Regions from separate parts of the Homo sapiens genome. Here all the other regions are linked to region 1. Evidence: fine-mapped expression QTL. A gene starts in region 1. Each other region holds a variant in brackets. All regions are shown on one strand. Distances are from middle to middle. Region 1 holds the start of CLMN (calmin). Region 2 overlaps LOC107984710 (a long non-coding RNA gene). Region 3 holds the start of LOC124903371 (a long non-coding RNA gene).

The links. PIP is the estimated chance that this variant, and not a neighbour inherited with it, causes the effect.
Region 2: its variant is the best candidate, but not a certain one, in a credible set for the expression of CLMN in monocytes after interferon gamma (Fairfax 2014, PIP 0.72).
Region 3: its variant is the best candidate, but not a certain one, in a credible set for the expression of CLMN in whole blood (TOPMed, PIP 0.88).

What each region holds. Positions count from the first base shown.
Region 1 is chr14:95,317,786-95,322,785 of GRCh38, reverse strand. CLMN (calmin) reads left to right here and starts at 2,878. Exons shown (of 13, transcript NM_024734.4): 1 at 2,878-3,075. The coding sequence starts at 2,994. RefSeq lists a silencer at 2,898-3,157 and enhancers at 3,788-3,867, 3,888-4,007.
Region 2 is chr14:95,351,880-95,359,086 of GRCh38, reverse strand. The region is part of intron 2 of LOC107984710 (a long non-coding RNA gene); the gene reads right to left. Among named protein-coding and RNA genes, the nearest start is that of LINC02292, 26 kb to the right of the region's middle. The variant G/T (reference allele first, on the strand shown) is at 2,720.
Region 3 is chr14:95,337,778-95,344,427 of GRCh38, reverse strand. LOC124903371 (a long non-coding RNA gene) reads left to right here and starts at 4,740. Exons shown (of 2, transcript XR_007064319.1): 1 at 4,740-4,834; 2 at 5,335-6,650. The variant C/T (reference allele first, on the strand shown) is at 2,663.

The DNA of each region.
Region 1 (5,000 bases):
CTCCCAGCCAGAACTCCAGATCCAGGAGGCTGCACACACCCAGAGGAAGGGACATATCATAGATTGGTATGTACCTGGTTCCCAAAAGCACGTGCTTTGCCTATCGCACATATGCAAACTTTTTTAAAATCACCTTTCCAGGAGCGTACTGGGGCCTTGGACATGAAGGTCAACTGTTTTTTTCACTTTGGTCCCCTGGTTTCTGGGTTCAGGCCTATAGTGAGAGTCATTCATTCATCCATCCATTTAATTTCGACACCTCTCCCTGTGCCAGACACAGAGCAGCCCTTGTTTTCACGTACTTCACAATTTATTGGGGAAAACTGTCAAGTAAACATAATTGTAGTACGATGCAATCAGGAAACAGAATTGCAGAGTTCATGGAATATTATGTGATTGTACTTAATATTACGGGAATTGTACAAGACAGGCACCCAGCTGAGCCTAGTGGTGTTGGAGAAGTCTCTGAGGTGCACATGATTAAGCAGGAGTAAGCTAGGTAAAGGTGAAGTGCAGGGAGCAGGGGAAGGGCGTTTCAAAGGGGACAAATGAGCAAAGGTCTGGAAGTGACTGGATGTGGCCAGGACCTGAGGCAGCTCAGCACTGCTGGGTCAAAAAGTGTAGAGCCAGGATTGAGGGGCACAGATCAATCACAGATGACTTAGTGTGCCCCACAGAGGAGCCCAGAGACACTCTAGGAAACAGGGGTGATATTGACACATGAGTTCAATGAATATTCAAGTACCTTTTAGAGGCCAGCCTCATGCTCAATACTGGCTTCTATTCCTTTTTGAAAAACACCTAAAATTCTTTCCACCTTACTGAAAAGCAAAGAAGTTCTTTAGGCTGAGAGTCGTCCAACAACTGGTATACAGTTGGTGCTCAATCGATGGTGATCATAGTCCCTCCCTGCCAGGGAGCTGTTGCTGACTGGGTAGTGTTCCCCAAATGATGTGGCTGTCCATTCCCAGGATCAGACATCTTTGCATCATGAAAAATGGCCCAACCCTGTAGCTAACATCCACAGGGCACATTGCTTAAAGACAGATTCCCTGCAACCTCTCTCATGATGGAGAAGAAGGCTGATTCTCTTAGCTCTCTGCTTTGTAAAGAAAATGGTTTTCAGCACAACTTCACCCCACAGCAATTATGGAAAATAAATTGAAGTGTAAGAACAGGGAGATGGCTAGCAGATGGGGCAAAATTAGCCTGGCTGCTACTACCACCCTGGCTCCACAGGACGCAGAAAGAGATCCTGCTCCTTGGAGTGTGAAATGACCACAAGATTAAGAATCAAGGCAGCAGCAAGGAAGCTCCTGCCTCAAGCCCAAGCACCAAGGAGCCCCTAATGGGGCCTCCACTTCTGTCTCCACTGATCCCACCTTTCCCCGCCCAAACTGCTGTCCCTGTGGGGGTTCCTCTCCTCCTTCTGGGCTCAGCTCCAAGGTCAGTCTTTAGAGACCTCTGCTGCCCTCCACCCGCATTCACAGTTCCTTAACCCAAATTGACTTTCTCCTTTCTGGAGTCCACTTTAGAAATCTCCTTTCCTTGTTTAAGGGCCACACGATAGCCCCTGCCCCAATGGATGACTGGAGGGTAGACTCACCCTCCTTCAGGGCCCTGCCTCAAGGGCACAGGTCTGTCCTTCGGGGGACCTCCATAGTTACTGGGTAATTAGTGAGCAGCCGGGTTTCCGGGATTCATTGCTGTGAACAGAGCAGCGATGCACACAGGCCCATGTGTTTAAATGCCCAGTGAGCCCTGTCCATTTTTTTCCCCCTCTTGGAACACTGAATATTTAAAGCCATTTTCTTTGTGGCCTTAGTTGTCACAGAAAGGGCCCAAGCACTGAGCTGGGAGCAGGGGGCTGGGACTTCCTGCTCCTAAGTCATTCCTCAACCTTGGGCAAATTCGGTAACTGTAGGGTCTCACTTTTAAGGAGTGTAAACCACATGGTGGGCACCAAACAGGATAAGATCCTGGAATTCTCTAGAGTTCAACAGTGGAGGTGGGGAGGGAGGGGACCGGAAGGCCTGTCCTGGCATTTTCAGTAGTCTCCACAGGAAGTTCTGTCCTGGCATTTTCACTAATTTCCAGTGACCCCACAGAGGGTCACTTGGAGACTCAGTGGCCAGAGACCCCACAGCGTACCCCAGCTCCTAGGAGTTGGCCTGCTTCTTGTTCCTTCCTAGAAGCTGGAGTCACATTACTGGACCGGAAAAGGCTCCTAGTATCTAAACCAACGAAGAAGGCCCTTCTTTCACAGCCCCCCCGCACTTTGGAGACTCCCACAACTTTACCTCCACACTAGTTTGCCCCCCGACCCAGGCCCTCGACACTCCCCACGCAGGGCTCCCAGGATTCGGGGATGGGCAGGGCTCGGGTCCTGGTCCCTCCAAGTGGGGGCTGCCTCTCCAGAGTGGACAGGGGACCCGCGGAGGGGGTGTCTTATCCCGGACGGGAGGGAGACGCTGCCTCCTGGACCAGGTACTGGGACCCACGGGCCCACCCCCAGTTGCGTCACCCGGCCCACCGCCCCCTGAGACATCACAATCTGGGGGCCGGGACCCGCGCCTCATCACAGCCGGTTTGTAACCAAACAATCCAACCTACAAACACCCCGGAAAGAAAAAAAACACAAGCTGGCCTGACCCAGCCTCCCGCCCCTGCCCCGCCCCGCCCCGCCCCTCGCCCCTCGCCCCTCGCTCCTCAGGGCCCCCGCCCCCGCACGGGGGAGTGAGAGCGAGCCCGCCGCCCCGCACCCGCCGCCCCGCGCTCGCTCGCGCCAGCCCGCGGCGGGGGCGGCCCCGACCGCGCCGCCCGCCCCTCCCCGCCCCGCCCCGCCCCGCCCGCGCCCGCGCCCCGCCCGCGCCCGCCGCGACTCCAGCTCCGCGGCGCCCTCGCCGGGTGCGTGCCGCTCGCGCGCCCGCCAGCCAGGCTCTCCGCGCCCGCCGCCCGCGCCGCGCTGGCCCGGGCTCTCCCGCCCGCGCTTCATGGCTGCACACGAGTGGGACTGGTTCCAACGCGAGGAGCTCATCGGGCAGATTAGCGACATCCGAGTGCAGAACCTGCAAGGTAACGCAGCCCAGGCTCGCCCCGGGATGGCTGGGCGCTCGGGGGGCCCGGGGCGCCGCTCCGACACTTGGCAACTCCCCCGCGCCGCCCCCGCTCGCCGGCCGCTCGTTGTTCCTGTCACTTGCCTCGAGGTGGGAGGCTGGGGTTGGATACCCGCCCCCAAGCCCCAGGGCGGCCAGCCGCGGCCAGGTTTACAGTTGCCCAGGGGGTGGGGCGCCACACGTGTGTGTGTTGTGGGGCGAGGGCTCGCATTTTCATTAGGGGGACGTCACCACCCCCTCCAGTCACCGCTGCGAGTTTGGAGAAGTTTGTACGTGGGCTCTTGGGGGCGGTGGCCCAGGTTAGGGAGGGGAGGAGACAGTGCGACTCTGTGTGTGTGTGTGTGTGTGTGTGTGTGTGTGTGTGTGAGTTCGCGCACTTCCTAAGTACCTTCGAGGCAAGGGGAATTGAATGGTGGGCGGCGCTTCAGGGGGTGAGTTGGGGAAAGCGGGGCCAGGGGTGCGGATCGGATCGGTGGGGTCAGGCAAGCACCCAACTCCAGCGGCCACTTTGCTTAGGGAGCTGCCCCTCCCCTGCAGGATCAGGACTCTAACTGGGGAGAGGGCGAGAGCCCCACCCTTCCCCCACGCTGGCCCCCAACTCCGACCCTGCCTGGGCACAGGACACTGGGACCAAGGCTTCTACCTGGGAGGTAGCTGAGAAGAGGTGAAAGAGAAACTCCAGTGGTGGAGAGCGGCTGGGTATGGCGGTGCCACACATGAAGTGTGTTTCTCTTTCAAAAGAATTTATTCAATGTGGAAACTTAGAAAGCACAAAAATATTTGAAGGAAAAAAGTCACCCATAATTTCCCCTCCACAACCTATCCACCCAACAGACAGGTGTTCTTCATGGAACTGTATCTCCAGCTTCTTTTTTTTCATATATGGGCTTTGCAGAACTAGACAGAACACCACTTCCGGCCCTTCTTCACCCACATTGACCTGTGCAGGTGAAGTTTCTGTAGCTGCTTCCCCTGCTGGCTTGGGTTTCTAGAGGGTTCAAGGTTAGGAGTGGCTAGGAGCGAGCTGGGAGGCCTGGGCAGAGAGGCGATGGGGCTGTGGGTGCCCTCCCCCAGCCAGGGCAGCGACTTTACTGTTATAGGGTAGGGAGCCCCAGCGCTGGGGGATGGCCGAGCAGTCAAGTTTAAACATTACACCTGATTGAATGTTTCCTGGGAGCCCAGGGTCTGCCCCACCCCTAGGTTGGGCAAGGACAGTGCCGGCAGAGGTGACCTCAAAAGGACTGGGGAGCCTCCTGGGGTGGACACTGGAAACTGAGTTTGCTCTGGGCCGCTCTGATCTCTTCTGGCTGTGATTTGTGTTAAAGGAGGAGGCTTGGGCTGGGATGTTGAAAGTGATCTCTTTTGATAATAAGCCAAGTGCCTGGATCCTGTTGCCTGAGAAGAACTGACATCCTGTTTGGGGGTGGGCATTAGTGTCTTCTGCTGGACTGTGAGGGTGTGAGTGTGTGTACCTGTCTGTCTTAGGCAACCATTGAGTGTTTAATAAGCACATACTAACCAATGCTTCGTGCAACAAGTTCCTGCATTCCTCTAGGATTAGCTCCTGGTTTAGAGAAGATTGATTGTTGTGAAGAGATGCCCCGCAATATGAACATTAGGTTACAACCAGAACGGTGGGAGAAGGCTTTACAGAATAGGGACAATTTGAGATGGGTCCTGGAGGTTGGGTAGGAGTTCACTGAGTAGGCTCCTCTCCCTCAGCTCCCAGTGAACTGTCCTCACTTTTAGGCAAACATCAGTTACAATTTAAGCATCAACAGGCTTTGCCATTAAAAAAATAAATTTTTAAATGTATGTATATGTTTAAATGTGCACTTATTAAGTTCAACAAAACTTTATGTATGAGTACATCTATGTAACAAC
Region 2 (7,207 bases), 35 kb before region 1:
ATGGTGGCGCATGACTGTAATCCCAGCTACTTGGGAGGCTAAGGCACAAGTATCGCTTGAACCTGGGAGGTGGAGGTTTCAGTGAACCAAGATCATGCTACTGCACTCCAGCATGGGTGACAGAGCGAGACTGTCCCAAAAAAAAAAAAAAAAAAAAAAAAAAAAGGAAAGGAGAAAAAGAAAAAAAGCCCACTCAGGGATTGGGGCCTGCAGAAGATCTGGACTCAAATTTTATAGCAAGTGGCTTAAATAAGAAATGGAATTTGAGCTAATTTCCTCACTTACAAGGCTGCCTGCCTGCCTTACAGGGATTTGGGGAGAGTAATGTATAGAAAGTGCCTTCCTCAATGGAGCCGGCATCACCATAATCTGCTATGTGTGCCCTGGTCTTTACAGTTAACAAATCTCCTTCACTTGCAAAATTTCATTTTGTTTTCACCATAATCCCAGGAGTTCAGCAGGACTGCTATGTTTAATAGTCACCTTTACAGAGCAGGAAATTGAGGGTCAGAGAGATGAAGCAACTTACCAAGTTCACACAGCAACTCAGCGTTAGAACTGAGACGAAAACACAGAGTTTGAATCTAAAGCTTTGAGGGTTGGTCTGATTCTGTTGACAAAGCTTCATGACAATGCCAGAAGACTCTGGGGACTGGTATTTCCAAAGTAATTAGTCACATCTAACATAGGAGAGACTTAGGATCAAGCACCAAAGATCTGCCACCTATTTTGGGCATGTGAGTAGCCCAAGGAATGTTCTAGAAGGAATACCTGGTGAGAGAAATCATGTTTCCCAAAGATGGCCACAACAGTAGCTCCCATCCCACATGCTGTACCTGTAGTAGGACTGTCTCATTCTCTCATTAGGATGTGGGGTCTAATTTGCCTCCCCTGGAATCTGGGCTGGCCTTACAGACTTGCTTGACAAATATAAAGTGGTCATTAGTGGTATTCTGGGACTTCTAGGGCTAGGTCATAAGAAGCCTTGCAGTGTCCACTGGGGTCTCTGGGGTTGATCTTGGAGCACTCTGTGTTGTAAAATTCTTTACACAGAGAGGCCATATATGGATGTTCCCAGGGACAGCCTTAGCCATGCTCCCAGTTGACGACCAGCAGGTCATCATGCTGTGTGAGCCATCTTGGACGTCCTGCAACGTCAAGCCCTCAGATAATTCCAACCCCAGCTGAATCCAACTACAAACAGCATAAGAGAACCTACGCAAGAACTGGCTGAGTCCAGTCAAATCCCAGAACCACAGGAGACAATAATGCATCCATATTTTAAGCCATACAGCTGTGGATGGTATATTATAAAGCAATGAATAACTGGAATACCTGGAGTGGTTTACAGGGCTCTTCATTTAAAGAGAAACTGAGGCTAAGAAATTAATCAAGGCCCTTCCTCTGGGCTCTCAGAACGCTCAGTGTAATTGCTATAAGGGTATCTGAGCCCAAATCATTGGTTTACTTGTCTGTCCTACGAGACTGTGAGCTCTTGGGGGATAGAGAATATATTAGGGCTCTGGAGTTGCTAGTAACGGAAATAAAACTGGCTTACTTAAGCAAAGCAAAATTGATTGGGAGGATTTGGGAGAGCTCAAAGAATTAGAATAAAAACCAGACTGGGTTCAGAGAACAGCAGTGATCCAGGGCAGGGGCACATGGAGAGTCTCTGGGGGTGCCAGGGCTATACATGAAGAGTAATCCTTTGTCCCTGTCATGTTATGCTGCTCAAGATTCCAATTCCAGGGGGAATACTCTTGACTGGCCTGCACTGGGCCACAGAAGGGCAGGCCCCACTTGGATGTGGGCCCCACTCAGGCTCTGTCCATTGGATGGGCTGTCCCCTAAACAAATTCAGGATGTTGATGCCAGAAGAATGGGGAGTGGGTATTGAAGAGGCAAAGTTGGGCCATCACATTTGCCCCAGCAACCCCAGTACCCAGCTCAGTGTCTGGCACATAATAGGTGCTCAAGAAATATTATTTTGATGTGTGAACAAATAAACAATCTAATGAATAAATGTGCATGAATGAATGAAGCAACACATGAACAAGTGCATAGTTAGACAATGCGTGGGCCATGTGCAGGCCTTTGAAGACACCTGCTAGATATTACAGCACTTTAACTCCCCTCCACCAAGCCAGGCATTTTTTTCTCAAGAGAGTTTCTGATACCTGGATTCTAGAATGTATACAATTTTAATCCCCTAATCCTGTCAGTTTAAGAACATTATACACTTTGAACAGGGCCTGTGATAATTCCTGAAAACACCCCAGGAGCGGTGACTCCCTAGCCCTGCTTGATTTTAAATTCAGTTTTCAGGGGAGGGCTGGTGGAGGAGATAGATGTGAGGGAGGCTTGTCTCTGAGGCAAGAGCTGGGAGGTCTGGCATTTCCTTTTATGGGTCCACAGCTGTTCAGCAGAAGGCAGCTGGACGAGGCTTGGTCTGGTGGCCGCCACACTACACCCAAGGCAGGTAGATGCGTCATCTGCACATCTGCCCAAAACCTGCACGTAAAGGACGACAGACCATGTTGTCTCACGCCTTACACAGACTCACTAAGGGTAAAAGGTCAGACTTCACCAACTCCTGAAAACGTCGCCACTTCTATTTTTGGTACACTTTCAAGGCACTCATCCTAGGTGGATAAGCTTTGGGGAGACAGGCCAGAACGAGGTCCCGGGTCAGGAGCCCAGCTGGTTGGGCCCAGTTGCC[G/T]GTGTGAGGCCTTCCAATTTGTTCTGAGACCCCCATCCCATGAACCAAATCCAAATAAAGTGACATTCCCAGCCTGCTGGTCCTGTCCTGGTGACTGGGGAGAGAATGGGTTCTCGCTCCGGCCAGGACTATAGAATTTAATGTTAATGATGGCCAATAGTGCCCCCTGGGATGGGCAATGGACTTTATTGGCCCCAGACATAGTCATTCTGGTGGGGGACTCAGGACCAGAGCTGATTCAGCCTAACGGTGGCAGAGGGGGGTGGCCAAGGAACTGGAAAGTAGTGAATAGAATCTTTGATGCCTTTACAATTTGTTAGCACACGCACAAAGAAAACTTAAAAAGCAAATTGGCTCAAATATATATTAATACCTCGACACACCCTGATTTACTCATCTGGAGGTAACTTACCAGTCAACAGATATTCTCCAGGACAGGAGGGAAAGGGTTAAGGAAGGAAAGGTCATTTGTGCTGAGCACCAGGGGGTGCCAGGGGTGATGTTAGGAACTTTCAATATATTATGTCCTTTAGGCCCTACAGCAGTCTGGAGATTCAATGCAACCTCATTTCACAGGTAAGGAAACTGAGTCCACAGAGGTGAGGTACATTGCCCAAGGTCATGATACTCCTAAGTGGCAAACCTAGGATTTGAACCTCGGTCAAGTCAGACTCTGTGGCCCATCTCCATTTCATTACATCATACCATCTCCTGGGAAGTAAACAAAAGAGGTGTTTGAATGGAAACGCACAGACCTCATTCACCAGAGAGTCTGCCAGAGCCACTGATTCTGGCTGTTATACAATTCTCACAAGTATGATTATTCGATCTCCTGGCTCACAGACAATGGGAAACATCAAATAAGTAGGAGAGAAGGCTACAGAAGGAAGCATACAGTGTGACAAGTAGCTATGGAAGCCAGGGTTCCAGGTACAGTAAATGGTGGGGTGGCTTGAATCTGACCAAGCCTCCTGATTGTAACCATTAAAATCTCTGAATAGCAAATTTTTAAAAAACCATTTGAAGGCACTGGAATGCAATTCAGAACTGGTGGGAATACAACTCTTGGGAAAAAAAGAAAGCATATAATTTTATGATTTTCTCAAAGAAAAAGCTTTTGTTTCATTCTCTCCTTTTTAATTTTTTATTTGTATATTTTTGGGGGGTACAAGTGCAGGTTTCTTCCATGCATATATTGCATAGTGGTAAAGTCTGGGCTTTTCCTATACACATCATCTGAAGAGTGAACATTGTATCCAATAGGGAATTTTCTATCCCTCACCCCCATCCCCACCCTCCCATGTTTCATAATCTCCAATGTCTACTATTCCACTCTGCATGCCCCTGTGTACCCATCATTTAGCACCCACTTATAAGTGAGAACATGCAGTATTTGACTTTGTGTTTCTGTCTCCTCTTGGCTTTTCAATGTCACTGATACCTAATTTTACTTTATTATTTCCTTTCTTCTTTTTACTTTGGACTTGATTTGCTCTCTCTTTTCTTGTTTCCTAAGGTAAAAGCCTAGGTCATTGCTTCGTGACCTTTCCTCTTTTTTTTTTTTTTTGAGACGGAGTCTGTCTCTCTCACCCAGGCTGGAGTGCAGTGGTGCCATCTCGGCTCACCGCAAGCTCTGCCTCCCAGGTTCACACCATTCTCCTGCCTCAGTCTCCCAAGTAGCTGGGACTACAGGTGCCCGCCACCACACCTGGCTAATTTTTTTGTATTTTTAGTGGAGACAGGGTTTCACTGTGTTAGCCAGAATGGTCTCAATCTCCTGACCTCGTGATCTGCCCACCTTGGCCTCCCAAATTGCTGGGATTACAGGCATGAGCCACCAAGCCTGGCCCTTTCCTCTTTTTTAATGGCAATTCATGCTATGAATTTTCCTCTGAGCACCACTTTAGCTGCATCTTGCAAGTACTGATAATGTCAGTTTTTATTTTCATTCACTTTGAGTTACTTTTGATTTCTTCTTTTTTTAATTTTTTTTATTATACTTTAAGTTCTAGGGTACATGTGCACAATGTGCAGGTTTGTTACATATGTATATATGTGCCATGTTGGTGTGCTACACCCATTAACTTGTCATTTACATTAGGTATATCTCCTAATGCTATCGCTCCCCTCTCCCCCCACCCCAATTTTTAAATTTTGTGGGTACATAGTAGGTGTATATATTTATGGGGTACATGAGATGTTTTGATATGGGCAACTTTTGATTTTTGCTTTGGCCCATGCATTACTTAGATGTATATTATTTTGTTTCTAATATTATGTCATTTTCCAGATGTCTTTTGGGTATTGATGTCTAATTTGTGAGCACAGAGCAAATTTTGTAAAGTGGGGGTTCATTTACATTTATCAAGACTTGTTCTGTAGCCCAGAATATGGCCTACTTTGGTACATATTCCATGTGCGTTGGAGAGGAGTGTGTATTCTGTTGTCCTTGGGTGAAGTGTTTTATAAATATCAGCTAAGTCACGCTGGTTGATAGCGTGCCATCTGTTGTTTCCTTTTCCTCTTTTTCTGCCGTCTTTTAGGTTGAGCTTTTTTTTTTTTTTTAATGGAGTTTCGCTCTTGTTGCCCGGGCTGGAGTATAGCGGTGTGATCTCAGCTTCGCTGCAACCTCCACCTCCTGGGTCCAAGTGATTCTCCTGCCTCAGCGTCCCAAGTAGCCAGGACTACAGGTGCCTGCCACCACGCCCAGCTAATTTTTGTATTTTTGGTAGAGATGGGGTTTCACCATGTTGGCCAGGCTGGTCTTGAACCCCTAACCTCAGGTGACCCTCTCATCTCAGCCTCCCAAAGTGCTGGGATTACAGGTGTAAGCCACTGTGTCCGGCTGAGAATTCTTTTATGATCCTATTTTATCTCTTGTGGGCTTCTTGGCTACCCCTCTCTGTTTTCTTTTAGTGGTTGCTTTAGGGTTATAGTACACATTTTTCCCTTATTACAATCTACCTTCAAGTGATATTATAACACGACATGTGCTATATGAAAACTTTATAACAGTATACTTCCATTTCTCCTCTCCTGGCCATTGTTCTAATTTGTCATATATTTTTACTTCTATGTATGTTATAAACTCCACCTTACAATATGTTAGTTGATAGTAGTTTTACTTTTAATAATTACCTTTTAAAGGATTTATTTATTTATTTATTTATTTATTTATTTATTTTACAGAGAGGGTCTTGATCTGTCACCCAGGCCATCTTCCCACTTCAGCCTCCCAAATATCTAGAACTAGAGGTGTGCACCACCACACCTGGCTAACTTTTTTTATTTGTGTTTATTTTTGTAGAGACAAGGTCTTGCTATGTTGCCCAGGCTGGTCTCAAACTCCTGGCCTGAAGCAATCCTCCTGCCTCAGCCTCCCAAAGCACTGGGATTACAGGCATGGACAACATTGCCAAGCCGTTAAAGGGATTTTCTAAAAGAAATAATATATTTTATATTTACCAACATACGGTATTTATCACTTCTAAAGCTCTTCACTATTTTAAACAGACAGACCATACCAAGTATTTCTAAGGATGGAGAGCAATGTAGGGTGTCCAGCACTGCTGGTGGGCATGTAAAATGGAACAGCCACGTTGGAAGCACAGTTTGGTGGTTTTTATAAAAGCTAAATACATACCTACATATGATTCAGCCATTCCATCCCTACATATTTACACAAAAGAAATGCAAGCACGGCTGGGCATGGTGGCTCATGCCTGTATTCCCGACACTTTGGGAGGCTGAGGCGGGCAGATCACTTGAGGTCAGGAGTTCAAGACTAGCCTGGCCAACATGGTGAAACCCTGTGTCTACTAAAAATATGAAAACTAGCTGGGCGTGGTGGTGGCACCTGTAGTCCCAGCTACTTGGGAGAGTGAGACAGGAGAGTCGCTTGAACCCAGAAGGCAGAGGTTACACTGAGCCAAAATCCCGCCACTGCCCTCCAGCCTGGGTGAAGGTGAGACTGTGTCTCAAAAAATAAAAAAAGAAGGAAAGAAAGAAAGAAAGAAAGAAATGCCAGCATATTTCCACACAAGGATCATTACATGAATGCTTATAACAGTTTTATTTTTAATAGCTAAAAACGAGAAAAAGCCCAGGGGCCCATCAGCAGATGAGCAGATCAACAAACGGTGGTGCATCTATATAACAATAAAAACAGGCACGTAGTCAAGCAGGGATGCCTGTGGCACCCCGCAACAACATGGATGAAGTGCGTAGCTATCATGCTGGGAGGAAGAGCCAGAAAAAGAAAAGATGCATGAAATTCCAGAAAATGCAAACCAATCAGAAAGCAGAGAGAGAGGAATGGCTTTCAAAGTAGCCCAAGGAAGCTTTTGGGGATGGTGCCCTTTGTATAGTCATAAACCTATGTCAAAACTCCTCCAGGTTTACATTTTAAATATGTGTGATTTATTGTATGGCAATTATACATCAATAAATCTGTAAAATCTATTGAATGGGCTTAAAGCAGATCAGAAG
Region 3 (6,650 bases), 21 kb before region 1:
CTCACGTGATGTTCTAGTTCATTGTTGTTTCTCTTTATCCCCTTCAATCTGGAATGGATCCTTATTCTTTTTTTTTTTTTTTTTTTTTTTGAGATGGAGTTTTGCTCTTGTTGCCCAGGCTGGAGTGCAATGGCACAGTCTTGGCTCACTGCAACCTCTGCCTCCTGGGTTCAAGTGATTCTCCTGCCTCAGCCTCCCGAGTAGCTGGGATTACAGGTGCCTGCCACCACACCCAGCCAATTTTTGTATTTTTAGTAAAGACAGGGTCTCGCCATGTTGGCCAGGCTGGTCTTGAACTCCTGACCTCGGGTGATACACCCGCCTCGGCCTCCCAAAGTGCTGGGATTACAGGCATGAGCCACCGCACCCGGCCCTGGATCCTTATTCTTATTCTTTCCCTATCTTTCATGTTCTCAATTATTCTGTAGGATTATCCTCAACCTGGGCCCATCTGATGTGTATACTAATAGGGTCTATGTATGTCCAACTTTAGTAGAAACCACAAGTTTTCCAAAGTGGTTGTATTTAATATGCTGTCCCACCAGCAATTGCTGCACATCCTCATAAACACTTGGTATTTTCTATGTTTTGTTTAATTTTAGTCATTTTGGTGGATGTGAAGTGAAATCTCATATAACTTAAATGTATACTTCTTTGATAACTAATGATGTTGCAGACATTTTTGTGTGCTTATTGGCCATATGAATGTCCCCTTTTGTGAAGATCCTATTCAATAATCTTACTCATTTAAAAAATTGGCTTGTCTTTTTCTTTAAAAATGTTTTATTAATATTATTTTAACTGACAAATATTAATTGTGTATACATATATACACATATATATCCATATATATACACATATATATACTTTTTTTTTTTTTGAGATGGAGTTTTGCTCTTGATGCCGAGGCTGGAGTGCAATGGCATGATTTCAGCTCACCGCAACCTTTGCCTCCTGGGTTCAAGCGATTCTCCTGCCTTAGCCTCCTGAGTAGCTGGGACTACAGGCATGTGCCACCACACCTGGCTAATTTTGTATTTTTAGTAGAGACAGGGTTTCTCCATGTTGGTCAGGCTGGTCTTGAACTCCTGACCTCAGGTGATCTGCCTACCTCGGCCTCCCAAAGTGCTGGGATTATAGGTGTGAGCCACCATGCCTGGCCTAATTGTATATTTTTTTATGGGGTGCAATGTATATGTATACAATGGGGAATACATAAATTAAGTTAATCAGCATATATAACACCTCACTTATTATTTTTTGTGGTGAGACATTGGACATTCACTTTCTAAGTTATTTTAAAATATACATTATTATTGGCTGTAGTCACTGTGCTATACAATAGATCTCAAATCTCATTCTATCTGAAACTTTGTGCCTTTGACCAACAACTCTCCATTCTTTTTCTTTTTGATCTGTATCAGTTCATTAAATATTCTCTATACAAGTCCTTAAATGTTGAAAATAAAACAATAAAGCTTCTAGAGGAAAACATAGGAGATTACATTTGTGATCTTTGTAAAGATAAAGATTCATTTAACTGAATACAAAAGGCATTAGCCATAAAGGAAAAAGTTGAGGAATTGAATTACATTAAAACCAAGAACTTCTGTCCACTAAATGACACTTTTTTTTTTTTTTTTGAGACAGGGTCTCACTCGGGCTACAGTGCAGTGGTGTGATCAGAGCTCAGTGCAGCCTCAAACTCCCAACTTCAAGTGATCCCTCACACCTCAGCTTCCCAAGTAGCTGGGACTATAAGTGCATAGCACCACACCTAGTTAATTTTCAACTTTTTTTGTAGAGACAGGGTCTTGCTATGCTGCCAGGGCTGGTCTCGAACTCCTGGCCTCAAGCAATCCTCCTGCCTCAGCCTCCCAAAGTGCTGGGATTACAGGTGTGAGCCACCACGCCCAGTCTTCACTGAGTGACACTTTTAAGAGTCAAAAGGCAAGCCATACAGTAGGAGAAGACACTTGTTTTATACCTTTATACATCTGTATAACACATAGTAATATATATTGTTATATATTATGTAATATATTAATATACTGTTTTCTATATTAACATATATAATGACATTTATTGGCCATATTTACTAAAGCTGACCATACATATACCCTATTAACAGGTACATACACACTCCTCCGTATATACCAAACAGAAATGTTTATATCTGTGCAGCAGAAAACACAAACAAAATATTCTTAGCAGGATTATTCTTCATAGCCCAAAACTGGCAACTACTCAAATGTCCATCAACAATAGAAAAGATCAATAAATTGAGGTATAGTCATATGATGAATACCATACAGTGATAGGGGAGGATATAACTGCTCCAGGTGAGGACATAGATGAATCTCACAGACATAAAGCTGATCAAAAGAAAACAGGCACAAAGGAATATGTACAGTTTAATTCCATTTATATAAAGCTAAAAAAAGTCAAAACTAACTTTTCACTTTCTAAAAACTTATCATCGAACTGTATATTTAACTAATATTTGTGTGCTTTATAGTATGTGATATATGCCAATTAAAATTAAAGGAAAAAAACCAGCCTCCAGTGGCTTCCCATTACACTTAGAATAAGTCCAACTTCTTATCAAGGACATTTATGAAGTGGCTGCCATCCAGGTCCTGACCTCATCTTTTCCCCTCTC[C/T]GCCTCATTCACTCCACATTGGCCATCCCGACCTTGTTGCTGATGCTTCAGCACACAAAGCTAGTTCCCACTTGTGGCAGACAGCACTGATGTTCCCAATTCTTCACCCATCTCCCTGTCCATGCCCTCTGCCATTTGCCATTCCTACTACTAGAGGTACAGTATACTTCTCAGCTCCATGGATGTTAAGCTTGGCGTTGTGCTATGTCTTGGTCAGTAAAATATGAGTAGACTCACGGTGTGTCAGTTCCAAGTGAGGCCCTAAAGTGAATCACTTCTTTCTGTTTGTCCTATCCCTCTGCTGCCACCAACCTGAGAACATGCCCTCCCTAGCCTGCTGATGCAAAGAGGATGAGAGACACAGATATGCAGCTTGAAGTCAAGCCCAGCTGAGCCCATCCTACATCAGCCGCTCACTAGTGGACCTGCAGAAGCATCATCAAGAACAAATAATTATTGTTTTCAGCCACTGAGTCATAGGATGTGTATTATGCAGCATCATTGTAGCAATAGCTGACTAATACACCACCTCAGTGTCTTTACATTTGCTGTTCCTCACATAGGTAACATCCTCATTCAAGTCCTTGTTCAAATGTCACTTCTTCAGAGAGCCCCTTCCTAACCACTCTATCTCAAACAGCACCATCTCTTCCCTTCATTTCTCTCCATCCTCCTGCCCTGCCTTACATGTCTTCATAGCACTTACTGCTACCTGACATTTTATTTGCTTATTCAGCCTCCATAAGAGAATGTAAGCTCCATGAGGGGAGGCACCTGTTCATTTCCACATCCCTGGTGCTAGCACCATGTCTGGCACTTATCAGGAGCTCAATAAATATTTGTTGATTGAACAAACCAATCTCTGCCCTCTCCCTCATCCCCGCTCACAATGTTTCCAGCATATAGAGAAACTGACTCAAAAATCACATCCTGCTGCTGTTTACCAAGGTGGGGCTGGTGAATGACAGGTCACTAGCAAAGTGACCCATCATTAAGTTGGTGGAAGGAAATAAAACCAAAGCAAGGAATCCACAAAATCTACAATCTTTCATACCAGCCCTTGGGAAAACCATTTCATCATGATAATAATTGGGTGTGAGCTAGTGTGGTCCATAAAAGCTCACTTTCTCAGTGTGTCTCTTCCTGGAGTTCTCTCCGGGGCCTTGCTGTGAGAGAACACGCCCCAGGCAGGAAACAGACTGGCCGGATCAGCATGGCATTGTGCCTTTGTCCGGCTCCGCCCACACACCTAATCTTTCGGGAGTCAAGGCACAGCCCACAAAGAGAGTTGGGCACCATCTGTGTGTTGGCCTCTGTGCTGGGACCTTTGTGAGCTTTATGACACCAATCCTCCCAAGATCTTGCCAGGTAAACATCATCAGGGCAGTTTAGGAACATGCCCAAGGACACTGGCAGAGCTGGAATTTGAGTCCCCGTCCTTCTGATGCCAAAGCCCATGTGGTTTCCACCCCCTGCACAGGAGGGGAGGAGGGCGAAGGCTCAGAGCTGATGAGGCTCAGGGCCAGAACTTTGATTCTCCCCACATTTTTCTGCAGCAGGAATTTGACTTTATGGAAGCTTCACATTGAACCTGACCTGCTCTCTGTGAATTATTTTCTAGGTCTTCGATGAATAAACAGGCAATTCTCCGTATCCATATATCTTATGTACCACACAAATATATATACCTACTATGTACCCATAAATATTAAAAAACAAAAAAACTAAAAGACCCAGATAATTCTCACTTTTTGGCTTCAGATCCTGGTCCTCTGTTGAAATGCTTATAAATAAAGGAGAAAGAATAGCACCTACATACACCTATAAATAAAGGAAGACATAGTTATAAAGATATATAGTTATAAAAAAGGAAATGGCCATAGAACTATTTAGAGGGATCTACATAGAAGGAAGAGAGACTAAAAATCAACTTGACTTCTATGAGCAAATAGCAGAGCAGTTTGCAGAGTTATGTATACAGAAGCCTCTGGCAAGAGGACAAGAGAAGTACAAAAAGTTTCTCATTAAATAACTTTTCAAACGGCAGTGCAAAGGTCTCTGGGCGTGTGCCCAGCGCACCTCAACCTGGAAGGCATTGCAGTGGGTGCAAGGCAGGACAAGCCCACGGAGCAAGCACTTCGGGTCGGCACTCACCTGCCCAGGAACTGAGAGGTAGGTCATGGATCAGCCTAGAAAGAAAGATCCACGTGTGACTTCCCCGTGGCTCTGCAAGTCTCCCAGGCTGTAGTGCAGTATAGTGGCTAAGAACATGGCACTTTGGTGACAGACAGACCTGATTCCTGTCTTGGCTCTGCCCTTCACTGGCGGTGGCACTGTGAGCAGGTGGCTTCACCACCCAGCCTGTAAAGTGGTGACAGTAGTACCTACCTTGCAGGACTACATGAAAAAGAAGTGAGATCATCCATGTAGCACGCATGGGACCAGATCCCAGAAAGTGGAGGAGGAGTGAAGCTCAACTCTGCTGGTCTGGACTTTTTGCAGTTGAAACGGGGCCCTTCCTTAGTTCTGGCTAACATTAAAAATGATCTGGCCAGGTGCTGTGGCTCATGCCTATAATCCCAGAACTTTGGGAGGCCAAGGCAGGCAGATCACCTGAGGTCAGGAGTTCGAGACCAGCCTAGCTAACATGGTGAAACCTTTTTCTACTAAAGATACAAAAAATTAGCCGGACGTCCTGGCGTGTGCCTGTAATCCCAGCTACTCAGAAGGCTAAGGCAAGAGAATCGCTTGAACCTGGGAGGCGGAGGTTGCAGTGAGCCAAGATAGCGCCATGGCACTCCAGCTTGGGCAAGAAGAGAAAAACTCCATCTCCAAAAAAAAAAAAAAGAAAAGAAAAGAAAAAAAAAAGATCTGCATCCTTTGAGCTCACACCAATGGATGAGAAAGAAGCAGGTGAAGGAATTTATTGTTATATTATATTAAATAAATAATAATAGTAACAGCCCTTATGCCACTCTCAAGGAGCATTCTCGTGTGCATAGTTGCTTCTGTTGAGCCCGCTGGAATATCTGCTTCTGCAATGAGGATGTTGGGCCCTGGGCAACCTGAGAACCTACCCAGTGCTGGCACACAGGAGCACAGAGAGAGCTGGGACAGACTGTCTGGTGGAATCAGCCCTCGGTGGACACCCTCGCCAGAGTGCAGCGTTACAGGCACTATTATCTGCATGTCTCTAGACAACATAATAGACAGACTCAGGGTTCAAAGCTTAGAACCAATGATGCCTCCTTCTGGAAGCCCTCTCCTTCCAATGGTTGGAATGAGTCCCCTCTGCCCTGTGTTTCCATGACCATGCTATGGCCTTTATCATTCCATTCACCATAGCAGTCCCCTTTCATGAATGACAGGCACTATGTCAGTGGCCTCAGTGAATCTCCCCATGGGAGAGATGAGGGGCCACAAGAGGGCTGGGGCAGAGAAGCATCATCACCTTAGTGGTTAACAGGATGCAGGGGAGCAGGGATGGATGTAGGCAGACAGGTCAGGAAGCCATGGCAGTGATGCCAGTGAGAGCTGATGGTGGCAGTGAAGGCAGGAAGAACTAGTTGGATTATAGATTTTTTTTGAGGTTAAACTGACAAGATGTCCTTGTGGATTGAAGGTAAAATACCTGAGAAATGAAGGAGATGAGAATGACCCCACGGTTTTTAGCCAGAGTAACTGCAAAGTTAGAGAACCCAAATACAAAGATCAGGAAAATTGTGGAAGAGCTGGTTTTGGAGAAAAAATAAGGAGGCCAGTTTGGGACGAGTTGAATTTGAGACACCTGCTAGATATCACACCTGCAGTTGGCTATGGGAAGATGTAAAGGTGGGAGTTATCAGTGTATAGGTGGGGAAATAAAGCTCCGAGCTTAGATGAGATAACCAAGGAGTAAGTGTAACTGATAAAAGAAGAGGACCAAGGAACTGACCCCTGGGCTTGACAAGGGTCGGCTGAGCATTTACACCACACCCAGCTCTGTGCT